2 linked regions of the Homo sapiens genome follow. The protein of the gene in region 1 interacts with the protein of each later gene in a pairwise test. Each region holds a gene or a part of one and is shown on either strand. Other genes may lie near its edges.

Evidence for each region.
Region 2: the proteins of PLEKHG5 (region 1) and RND3 interact in binary tests that used the Homo sapiens proteins (3 or more experiments, as listed by UniProt).

What each region holds. Positions count from the first base shown.
Region 1 is NC_000001.11:6,488,665-6,496,242, forward strand, and holds the start of PLEKHG5 (pleckstrin homology domain-containing family G member 5), read right to left. Parts: upstream 3,004-7,578; 5' UTR 2,973-3,003; intron 1,917-2,972; exon of another isoform or gene 1,781-1,916; intron 1-1,780. UniProt on the Homo sapiens protein: Functions as a guanine exchange factor (GEF) for RAB26 and thus regulates autophagy of synaptic vesicles in axon terminal of motoneurons. Involved in the control of neuronal cell differentiation.
Region 2 is NC_000002.12:150,467,688-150,470,707, reverse strand, and holds the end of RND3 (rho-related GTP-binding protein RhoE precursor), read left to right. Parts: intron 1-469; coding exon 470-721; 3' UTR 722-2,513; downstream 2,514-3,020. UniProt on the Homo sapiens protein: Binds GTP but lacks intrinsic GTPase activity and is resistant to Rho-specific GTPase-activating proteins.

The DNA.
Region 1 (7,578 bases):
GTGGGGTGGGCCTGGGCAGGCTCCTGCATTCCCACCTCCTCTCCACAGCAGGGAGCTGAAACAGCTCAGGGGCAGGCCCAAGAAGTCCTGGCCCCCAACTCCCTGGGGAGGGAGCCCCTCCCCAGCCCAGCCCCAGCTCCAGGCTTGTGAGTCAGGGCCGGCTTGTTGAAACTGATACCCAGAAACCAGATGCGGAGGCTGATGAATAATGGAGTCTCCAAGGCAGGACCCCCGCACCCGGCTGTTCTCCCTCAGTATCACCTCCCCCAGCCCCAGAAAAGCAGATGGGAAACCAGGGATCCCCCAGGCATCCCTGCCCCACAACGAGCTGGGGCCCCAGCCTGGTCTGGGTGGGAGAGGGACTTCCCTGTCCAGGAAAGGACGCAGGTCTGGGGCCAGCTCCAGGCTCTGCCGACAGCAGACGGGCCTGGAACCAGGAGTCCGAGCTCTCTGGCTGGAGGGATGTCCTTGCCAGGAATTCCCACCAAGGCTAAGCTCCCCTGGGAGCCTGCTAGTCCCAAGGCCCCACCCAACACCTTAGAAATCCAGGGGTGGAGACTGCATGCATGGGCAGGCCAGCCAGGGCGGGGTGGCTTTGCCAGGCGGCTCTCTACGCTCCACCCGGCCTACCCACCCTCCTTTCCCCTAGGCCCAGGCCTCACCCATCACCCCTTGGGTTCTGAGGCTCACCTGGAGTCAGAGCCTGACCTAAGGCCCTGCCCTGTGCCGGGCAGATGGCAGGGACACAGAAAACCTCTCCCCAGGCTAAGCCCACCGCACGGGCCCTGGAAGCCAGGAAGGCCCCTTCCTCCCCAGGGAGCGGTCCTGGCTAGTATGCCCAAGGCTGGGACCCAGTGCTAGAGAAAGAGGGAGGGGCTGCAGTCTGTGAACATCCCCTCCTGCCCAGCCTCTGCAGTTCCCAGCCCCAGACCCCAGCGTGTGTCTTCGGAGCACCTGGACTAGCAAGCCCTTCCCCGGTGCAACTTAGAAGCCTCCTTGGTAGGGAGCGGGGGAAAGAGGGCACCTGCCTGGGCTTCAGAAGACCTGGTCTGGAGCCTACGTTCCCCCACCCTTCCCCTACTGGGCCTCAATTTGCCCACCTGTGCCAAGAGGGCATAGAATTCAGTATCTGGGGATGGCTGCCAGGTCCTAGTGTGTGCCCGGACCCCGGCTAAAGGGCAGGAGAATGGTAAAATACCCCCGAGCTCCCTCAACTTGAGGAGTTACTAAGGAATCTGCAGGGGACCTCTTGGCCTCCATTTCCCAGACTTCCACCAAGGCAGGCCAGGGCCTCCCCGGATTCACGGGTCTCCCGCATCCCCCACCCCTAAGTGGGTGCCTGGGTCTGCTCAGACTGCCCGAGGCGCAGCCTCTGGCGCCCCCTGCCGGCCTCGAGAGGGCTTTTCCGCCTGGGACCGACTCCGGGACTGGCCAGATGGGGAGGATCGGCTGAGCCTCCCAGCCACGCCGCGCGCCCGGGCCCCTCCAGGATCCCCCTGCCCCGCCAATACCCCCCATACCGGGGCCAGGGTCCCATAGACTCCTCACGGCCCTATCTCCGAGCCGACCCACCCTAGAGACACTGTGATGGGGGCGGGAGCTTGAACCCATTCCACCCTCACGTAAATGGAGATACAGCTGGTGAGGACCCTGTACCCACCCACAGGCCTGGCACTACGTGGGAATCTCGAATCCGGGTTCTGTCCATCGGTTTAGGGGGGTCCTGGCGCCTAGTCCCACCCCCCGTCCGGAGCGCAGCTCCCACTTCCCCGCGACTCACCTAGGAACAGGACCAGGGTCTCCTCCCCGGTGTCTAAGGCTCTAAGGCTCGGGCCGAGACTGCCAAAGCCTCATGGGGCGCGCGGGGAGAGGGGGACGGGAGCCGCGGGACGGGCTCAGTCGACTCAGCGCAAACTGGGGCGCGGGACGTAGGGGAATTACGGTAGCCGCGCGGGCGCTACCACCTGGACCGGCCGGGATGTACCAACGGCGCCGCCCGGCTGGGACCGGGGAGAGGAGGGGTCCCAGGAAGGGCCCCGCGCCGGAGCCAGGGAGGTGGCTGGAGGCCGGGCGGTGGCTTGGGGTAATCCAGGATCCGGGCTCAGGGGAGGGGGTGGGGGGCGTCACTGTCCCCGAGGGGCCAGCCCTTTGCAGATCTCCAAAAAGTTCAAAGTCCCTGGTCATTAACTTGGGCTTGAAGACGGGAGCTCGCCCATCCCGGAAGGGGGCTAGGGGGGACCAGGGCCCGCGACAGGAAGCCTCCGCGCGACAGAAAAGCCCCGGGGGACCAGGCAGAGAGACCCGCAGGCCTAGCCCGCCCCGGAATCGCCCTGAGCCAGGTTCGCTTCCGCTCTATTGTAAAAAGCTGGATTCTGATCTGCGGCCTCCGCGGTGCCCCAGAAACAGCCCGCTTTTCTCTGGGCCCCCTCTTTTTTTTTTTTCTGGCCCAGGTGATATGGCCGGAAAAGGGTGCTGTTCTGCCATTTAGTGGTTCCCAGTTCCCCTCTCCCAGCAGCGGGAGTTTAGAATAACTCTGGGCTCAGGACTGGGAAGGGTGTGGATACAGGGGGCCCACTCGAGGAGGTGGAGTTCAGGTCCACCAACCTGTTCCGCACTTTCAAGCTTTTTATACAGCCTTCCCCCGACCCCTTCCCAGGCCAAAACCTCCAGACTGCCCCACACAACCCTTGGGGCTGGGCCTATACTAGGGCAGCTCCTGGCTGGGCCAGGGATCCCCACGTCTTCACCTGCTCCCCCAAAACTACTTAGCCAAAACCCAGGAGTCCCCTTGCATTGTTTCTCTGGCCCTGCCCGTTTCTTCAGCTGCAGATAGCCCCACCACCTCTCTCCGGGGACCAGTCACTTCCAGAGATGGCCCAAACCTGGCCATTCCCTGGGGCATCCTGGTCTGCCGCTGCTCACCCCCAAAGCATTGCCCAGGAGAATAGGTGATTGCCTCTCCCATTACTCACATCCTGCCCGTCCCTTCTCCATGGGGGCCTCAGGTCCACCCTTTCCTCTCCCTGGTCTTCATCTCACCACCCCTCCCTCCACACACGCATACCCTGACTCATCCCTGCCACCTCACAGGCCATTGTTAAGCTGCAAGGGAACTCTGAAGTCCTCCCATCCAACCTCCACTCCACACTGCAATCCCCTCTACGCTTCCCTTTCTGTCTCTTCTTGCATATGTCTAGTGATGGGGTGCTCACTACCTCCACTTCGGGGATAGCTCCAGCTGCTGGAAACTCTTTCCTGTAGTGTGCTGAACCCCACCTCCCTGTCAAGGCCTTTGGGAGCTGTGCAGAAAAATTCACCTCCCTTTCCTCCTGAGAGTTCTGAGGAAATGGGAGGCTCTGACAGAGAGGCCTGGTTTGAGTCCTGATCTTGCCTTGCTTGGCAAGTCATTTTACCTCGCCACTCTGCAGGGCCCTCTCTAGGAAACGGAGATGGGGTAGGCCCCACCGCAGCGGGGGAGGCGGCCAGATGAGGTTTCTGTGCCAGGCGCTAAGGCAGGGCCTGGCATACAGTACGTGCTGGATCAATGGCGGCTGCTGGAATCACTACCTCCTCCATGATAAACACCCTCACATGTGGTGCCCAATGTCCCCTGTGGCCCAGGGCCACAAGTGTCCTCCTCCATGCCCCCTTGTGACCTGGGACGCCCTGACTAGACCTCGAACAGTGCCCAGTGGAGCCCAGCAAGGAGCTGGGGAGTCCACACACTGTCCCGTGGCCACCTCACAGGAGGGCAGGGGGAACCCACAATATCATTAGTCTGCCTTGATCTCCCGGCCTTTCTCCATCTCCCCAAACTCACAGCTCCACCTGTGTGCAAGAAGCTGGGATGGAGCCTGGGGAGGTCTCAGATCCCAGGGCAGGTACGGAGGGCACACCCAAAGTCTAGAGGTGACTTTGTTACCCCCACTCCCAGGACACCTTGCACACCTACGCTGTGCTAGGCTCTATGCTAAGCATGTTATATATGGGCCTCTTTTAATCCTCGCTGCCGGGTTATTTTCCAGATGAGGAACCTGGGGTTCAGAGAAGTGTAGTGACTTCCCCAGGGTCGCACAGCTGGAAAAAAGTAGGTTTGATCCTGGAGCTCAGAGGTGTGGACTGCTCTACATATCTTCATCCTGGGGAGGGGCCATTTCTCTCCTGGGGTCTCCATGACACACAGTCCAGACCCCTCATCTGGACATGCAGGTGCTCCTAGTGCAGCCTGCCTCCCCCTCCTCCCGTCCCCTTCTCCCTGTGCCCCCTGGCCTCGCTTGCCCCTTATAGCCCCCAATGTCCCCCCCTGCTCACTCAGCTGTCCTCCATCTCAGTACCTCTTTAATCCTCAGGACTCCAGTTGCCTCCAGGAAGCCCATCCTGGTTAGCCCTCCTCCCAGTGGGAACTCCAGGGGCAGGAGGTAGGGGACAGATGGCAAATTCATCTCAGAAGCTCCAGCACCCAGGAGAGCCTCAAATAAAACATCAAGGGTGGGCCCAGAAGCCGAAGGGTCCAGCCCTGCCTGAAATTGGTCCTTTGCCAGGGCAGCCTGGGGGGAAGTTTGGCCAGCCAGGGTCACTTCCCTTCCTTCCTCCCAGCACAGCTAGAATGTCACCTCCAGGAGGGCATCCCCTTTGTTCTCTGGAGATCTCCTGGGCCTAGAACTGGGCCTGGCACCGACAGATGCTCAGAGCTGGTCTGGTAAATGAATAAATGAAGTCATCTCCTTCAAAACGCTAGTCACATCCTGGAGAGTAAGAATAGGGCTCTTGATCAGACAAGCCTCACGCAGGCCAGGCTCTGACGATCATGCTGTGTGATGTGGGCAAGTTCCTCTACCTCTCTGGGCCTCCGTTTCCTTACAAGTCATGTGGTCATAAGAATAACGCTGTTCTCCTGAGGGTCTCAAGAAGCTTCACTGAGACAAGCAGGAGGGCCTAACGCCCCGCCTGGCATGTAAACATGTTCGGTCAGCAATAATTGTTATTATTATTATTATTGGGTGTTTTTTGAGACAGAGTCTCGCTCTGTTGCCCAGGCTGGAGTGCAATTGCGTGATCTCAGCTCACTGCAACCTCCTTCTCCAGGGTCCAAGCGATTCTTCTGCCTCAGCCTCCTAAGTAGCTGGGATTACAGGTGTGTGCCACCATGTCCGGCTAATTATTTTTTATATTTTTGGTAGAGATGGGGTTTCACCATGTTGCCCAGACTAGTCTCGAACTCCTGACCTCAAGTGATCTGCCCACCTTGGCCTCCCAAAGTGCTGGGATTACAGGCATGAGCCCCTGCGCCTGGCCTGTTATTTTTGAGACAGGGTCTTGCTCTGTTGCCCAGGCTGCAGTGCAGTGGCACAATCACGGCTCACTGCAGCCTCAATGTCCCAGGCTCAAATGATCCTCCCACCTCACCCTCCCCAGTAGCTGGAATTACAGGTACCCACCACCACACCTGGCTAATTTTTTTTTTTTTTTTTTTTTTTTTTTTTTAGACGGAGTCTTGCTCTTGTTGCCCAGGCTGGAGTGCAATGGCATGATCTCAGTTCACTGCAACCTCTGCCTCCCAGGTTCAGGCAATTCTCCTGCCTCAGCCTCCCGAGTAGCTGGAATTACAGGCACCCACCACCATGCCCAGCTAATTTTTATATTTATAGTAGAGATGGGGTTTCGCCATGTTGGCCAGGCTGGTCTCGAACTCCTGAGCTCAGGCAATCTGCCCGCCTTGGCCTCCCAAAGTGCTGGGGTTACAGGTGTGAGCCACCACGCCAGGCCTTTTTTTTAATTTTAGTAGAGAGAGGTCTCCCTATATTGCCCAGGTTGGCCTCAAACTCCTGGGCTAAAGCAGTCCTCCTGCCTCAGCCTCTCACAGTGCTGGGATCGCAGGTATGAGCAACCACACCCAGCCAGTAGTGGTTATTATTATCATCATCGACAATGTTATTCTTTGTTTCTCTTACCAAATCTGAGTGCCCCGCACCTCCTCTCCACCACTGCCTCTCCCTTCCTGGACTGCCCTTGCCTCTGTTCTGTCTATCCATGTTTTCACATCCATTAAAGGCCCCCTCCTCCAGGATGCCCTCCCTGACTGGCTCTCTATGCCTCTGATAATTCAGGCATTTCTGCCCCTACAGTGAGTCTGTGCCATTTGTCCCAAAGGGCGTCCCAGTAGTGACAGGGCCCAGACTCTCCCCGTGCACGCTGGGTGACCCTCATCAGCTGATGCCAATGTCAGCTGTGCCAAGTTCCAGGCAGGCCAGGGCTGGAGGTGAGGTCTGGAGGCTGCAGAGGGACCATACCCACTCTGAGACCAGCTCTCTTCTCCCAGGCCTCACCTCTATGAAGGCTGGGCCATCCCACCCCTGCCCCTGCCTGAGCAGCTTGAGGACCCCCCCTGAGAGCAGCTGCCCAGAGGAGGGGCTGGGACAGTGTGCCTTATTGCCCCAGCCGCCCCTTCAGGTCAGGCAAAAGCCTCGGGGCTCCGCAGGCCTCTGGCAGGATGTATATTGGGGGGAGCTGAGGCCAATTTGTTGCCAGGAGCCCCCATCTGGGAAAGAGGCAACCAGCCAACACCAGAGCCCAATGCCAGGCACCATCCGTGCCAGCAGATTGTATCTGACATCACACCGCCCCCCTGCCTGGTGACCACGGCAACTGGAGGCCGCCCCCTCCCCGCCCCGCCCCATAGCAGTTCTCCCTGTTCCCTCACCACGGCCCTCCTGTGCAGAACGAGTGTGTGTGTGTCTGGGTGGAGGTGCGGGAGGGGAGCGGGGGGTGGGGGGTGGCATTTTACATTTCCTGCAGCTGGCAGTGCTGAGACACATGATGGAAGACAACACGGGCCCTGGTATGACACAGACCTGGGTACTGGGTTCAAATCCCAGCTCTCCCACTTCCTAGCAGTCTGTCCCTGAGTGAGCCTCAGTTTCCCCATCTGTAAATGAGAATAAGGACAGGACCATCTCAGAAGGCCGGAGGAGGAGTCAGTGAGTCCTGGTGCCTGCGCCAGATGCTAAGTTGCGCAGTTGTCACTATTGTCATGTAAATGCATGCTGGGAGGGGCAAAACCTGGCTCCAAACCCCGGCTCCATCTCTCATGAGCTGTGGGCCTTGGCCAAGTCACTGGACCTCTCTGAACCTTGGTGTCTTCATCTGGAAAACGGGGTGACGATGCCTTCCCTGCAGAGCTGCCGCAATCAGTGCATATGGCACAGAAAGCGGGTGGCACTAAGCCCAGCACATCACAGGCAGAAGCGCCCAGCCAGTACTATTATCCTCCTTCCTGCCCCCTTTATCCCTGATTTATACTTCGCCCCACTCCCAGCTCCCAAGCCCTGGCACTCCAGGATCAACTGGCCCCTTCCTCCTTTTGTCATCCCCAGGGCCATGGTCACACTCGCCAAGTCCCAAAGCATCTCAGACCCATGCCCAGGCCTGAAGAGTGGCTGAGTTCAACAGGAAGGGTGCCATCTGGGCACTGGACCAGCACCGTGGGAGACCACTTCCCCTGGCTAAGCCTCAGTTTCCTCATCCGTGACATAAGGCTACAGCTCCTGTCACCTCAGAATGGCTGCTAGGACCACAGTG
Region 2 (3,020 bases), on another chromosome or scaffold:
CAGCTAACTTACTTCACTAGTAAGCTTCTCTGCGCCATTCCATGCTTGCTGTGACCCTGGAAAACCTGAATAACCAGTTAACTCTTGCTTGCAGTTGATAGTGAAGATGAATCACTTCGTTAGCTCCACTCTACACTTCTTTGAATCACCTCATGTTAAGTGTTTGATAACCAGGGTCTTCCTTTGTTAAGATCAGCCTTTAGCATTTATTCAGAGCTCTAACACCTCTAATGAGCCATGAGAGTTGGGCATCTTAGGGATGGGCTCTGGACTGCAAATAGTTATGAAGTAATAAATAAGGCAGTTTACATTTTAACAACTTTTTTTTTTTGCAATGACACTTGGAAAATTCAGTTAACATATCAGCAAACGTTTTGCAATGTGTTATTATTTTGTGGTATTAGAAGATGCTAGCTAACTTTCCCCCAAAGTCTTATTGCTGGTTAAAATCCCTTCTTTTGCTTCTCAGGGGGCAAATATGGCCAAACAGATTGGAGCAGCTACTTATATCGAATGCTCAGCTTTACAGTCGGAAAATAGCGTCAGAGACATTTTTCACGTTGCCACCTTGGCATGTGTAAATAAGACAAATAAAAACGTTAAGCGGAACAAATCACAGAGAGCCACAAAGCGGATTTCACACATGCCTAGCAGACCAGAACTCTCGGCAGTTGCTACGGACTTACGAAAGGACAAAGCGAAGAGCTGCACTGTGATGTGAATCTTTCATTATCTTTAATGAAGACAAAGGAATCTAGTGTAAAAAACAACAGCAAACAAAAAGGTGAAGTCTAAATGAAGTGCACAGCCAAAGTCATGTATACCAGAGGCTTAGGAGGCGTTTGAGAGGATACTCATCTTTTTGGAATCCTGACCTTAGGTTCGGCATGTAGACCAAGTGATGAGAAGTGAATACATGGAAGAGTTTTTAAGTGTGACTTGAAAAATATGCCAAAAAATGAGAGATACAAATGAGCTAGAGGAAGATGAGGGGGGATGCGAGTACCTCCAAGAAGAAAAATCACACTCTGAATGGTGCTTGCATTTTTGGGTTTTTTTTTTTTGTTATAATCTATTCATGGATCTCCACTTTGATTTAATTTTTAAATGTTTTAATCTCCTTTACAAAAAGTATACGTTAATATACCGTCCTCAAGGGGGAACTGGCACTGTGACCTTAGCATTTAGTTTTCTAGAGGATGTGATCTAATTTCTTTCTAGCTCATCATTAAAAAGGAAATTGTATCAGGACCCATGGGATATATCCAGAGGCAAACTTTATGAGGCTTTGAAATCTTGCCTTCCTGAAGATAGCTGAGTAGGATGGTTCTAAGGAAAGCCTTTGCAATCTTGCAAGATTTGTAGACCAGCACTACAAAGATCGCATAGATCAAATAGGAAAAAAAATGTCGATTTTTATTCAGTCTGATGGTTCTGTTCTTCATTGTGATTGTCATTAAAAAGTGGTAAATTGCTCAATGTAATATTTTTGTGCGCTGTTTAGAAGTTGTGTGATTTTTTGCCATCGTTGATAAAAATGCAAAGTCAAATAAAAGGTGTCTTGGTTTGATGTCATAGAATGATCCAAGGAGAGAAAAAAGGTAGTTACTGTTTTCACCAGAAAAGGTAATGAGTGAAGGAAAGAATAGTAGCAGAAAGCACAGTTTGTGAGTAAAGCTGTCTGGAATTAAGTTACCAAAAATACAAAGCAAAAGGACTATTATTTTGGGTTGAAGCTCCAAAACTGACAGCATCTGATAATCTGTTGGTTTATTTCACTTTTCATTAAATGAACATTGATGAGAGAAGATGCCACTTACCCAAGCTTTAGAGAATCCCTAGTGGAAGATTATATGATAAACTTTCAGTCCTGACATAACACTAGGGCATTTCTAGAGTGTCATTGCTAAAACCTCACTGAACAGATGCAGCCAAGGTCTGTGTTCAGCACTTGGTCTCTGTTGTTACGTAAAATAATAAGCATTTAAAATAGTTTACAGATATTTTTGACCAGTTCCTTTTAGAGATTCTTTCAGAGAAGAAACCAGATCTGACCTGTTTATTGTTGGCGCTTGTTGAAAACGAGCTTTCTTTCCCATGATAGTGCTTCGTTTTTGAAGTGTTGAAGCTGTGCTCCCCTTAAATCGTGGCAGGAGAGATTAAGGTAATTACAACACTCAGTTCTATGTCTTACAAGCACTTTGTCTTGTCTCTGCAAGAAAATTCGATTCCAGTCATTTCCCATAAAATACAGACATTTTACCAACATAATATGCTTTGATTGATGCAGCATTATGCTTTGGGCAGTATTACAAAATAGCTGGCGAGTGCTTTCTGTATTTAAATATTGTAAAAAGAAAATAAGTTATAACTGTTATAAAGCAGAACTTTTGTTGCATTTTTTAAACTGTTGAAGTCACTGTGTATGTTTGTTTGGTCAATGTTTCCGCAGTATTTATTAAAACATACTTTTTTTTTCTTCAAATAAAAAAGTAACCATGTCTTTGTCTAAATGTGATCTGTCTTTTATTATCTACTTCCTGATTTAGCTGTTTAGCTTTGTTCTTTAACATAGGTGATTACAGAATCTGGCCTAACGTTTTCTGAACTAGAAGGCTTTGGAATTTTTTGATTCTTCATAGTAGTAACAGATAAACCTGCATATATAAAAGTTTTCATGATGCTTTCAAATCACAAGAAAAAAATGGGGCATAATTAGATTAAGTGATTTGATCATATACAAAAAAGAGCTATGATACTGCCTAAGATTAACTTGTAGAAAAGATGGAAATCCTTCAAGTCTTTAAGAATGAAGCAATATGATGCAGTCTCAAGTCACAGGTTTAATACTAATATAAGCCTAGTTTGCCTCTCTGCCCTGTGGGGTCCTAAGCCTTGGTCCTTAACCCATGCCACCTCGCAAGGCATGCCCTTGTTCACAGCAGTTGTGGGGATGACCCAGAACACAGCTTTTGCAGCAATTCGTGGAAGGATAAATAACACAGCACAACATAATACAA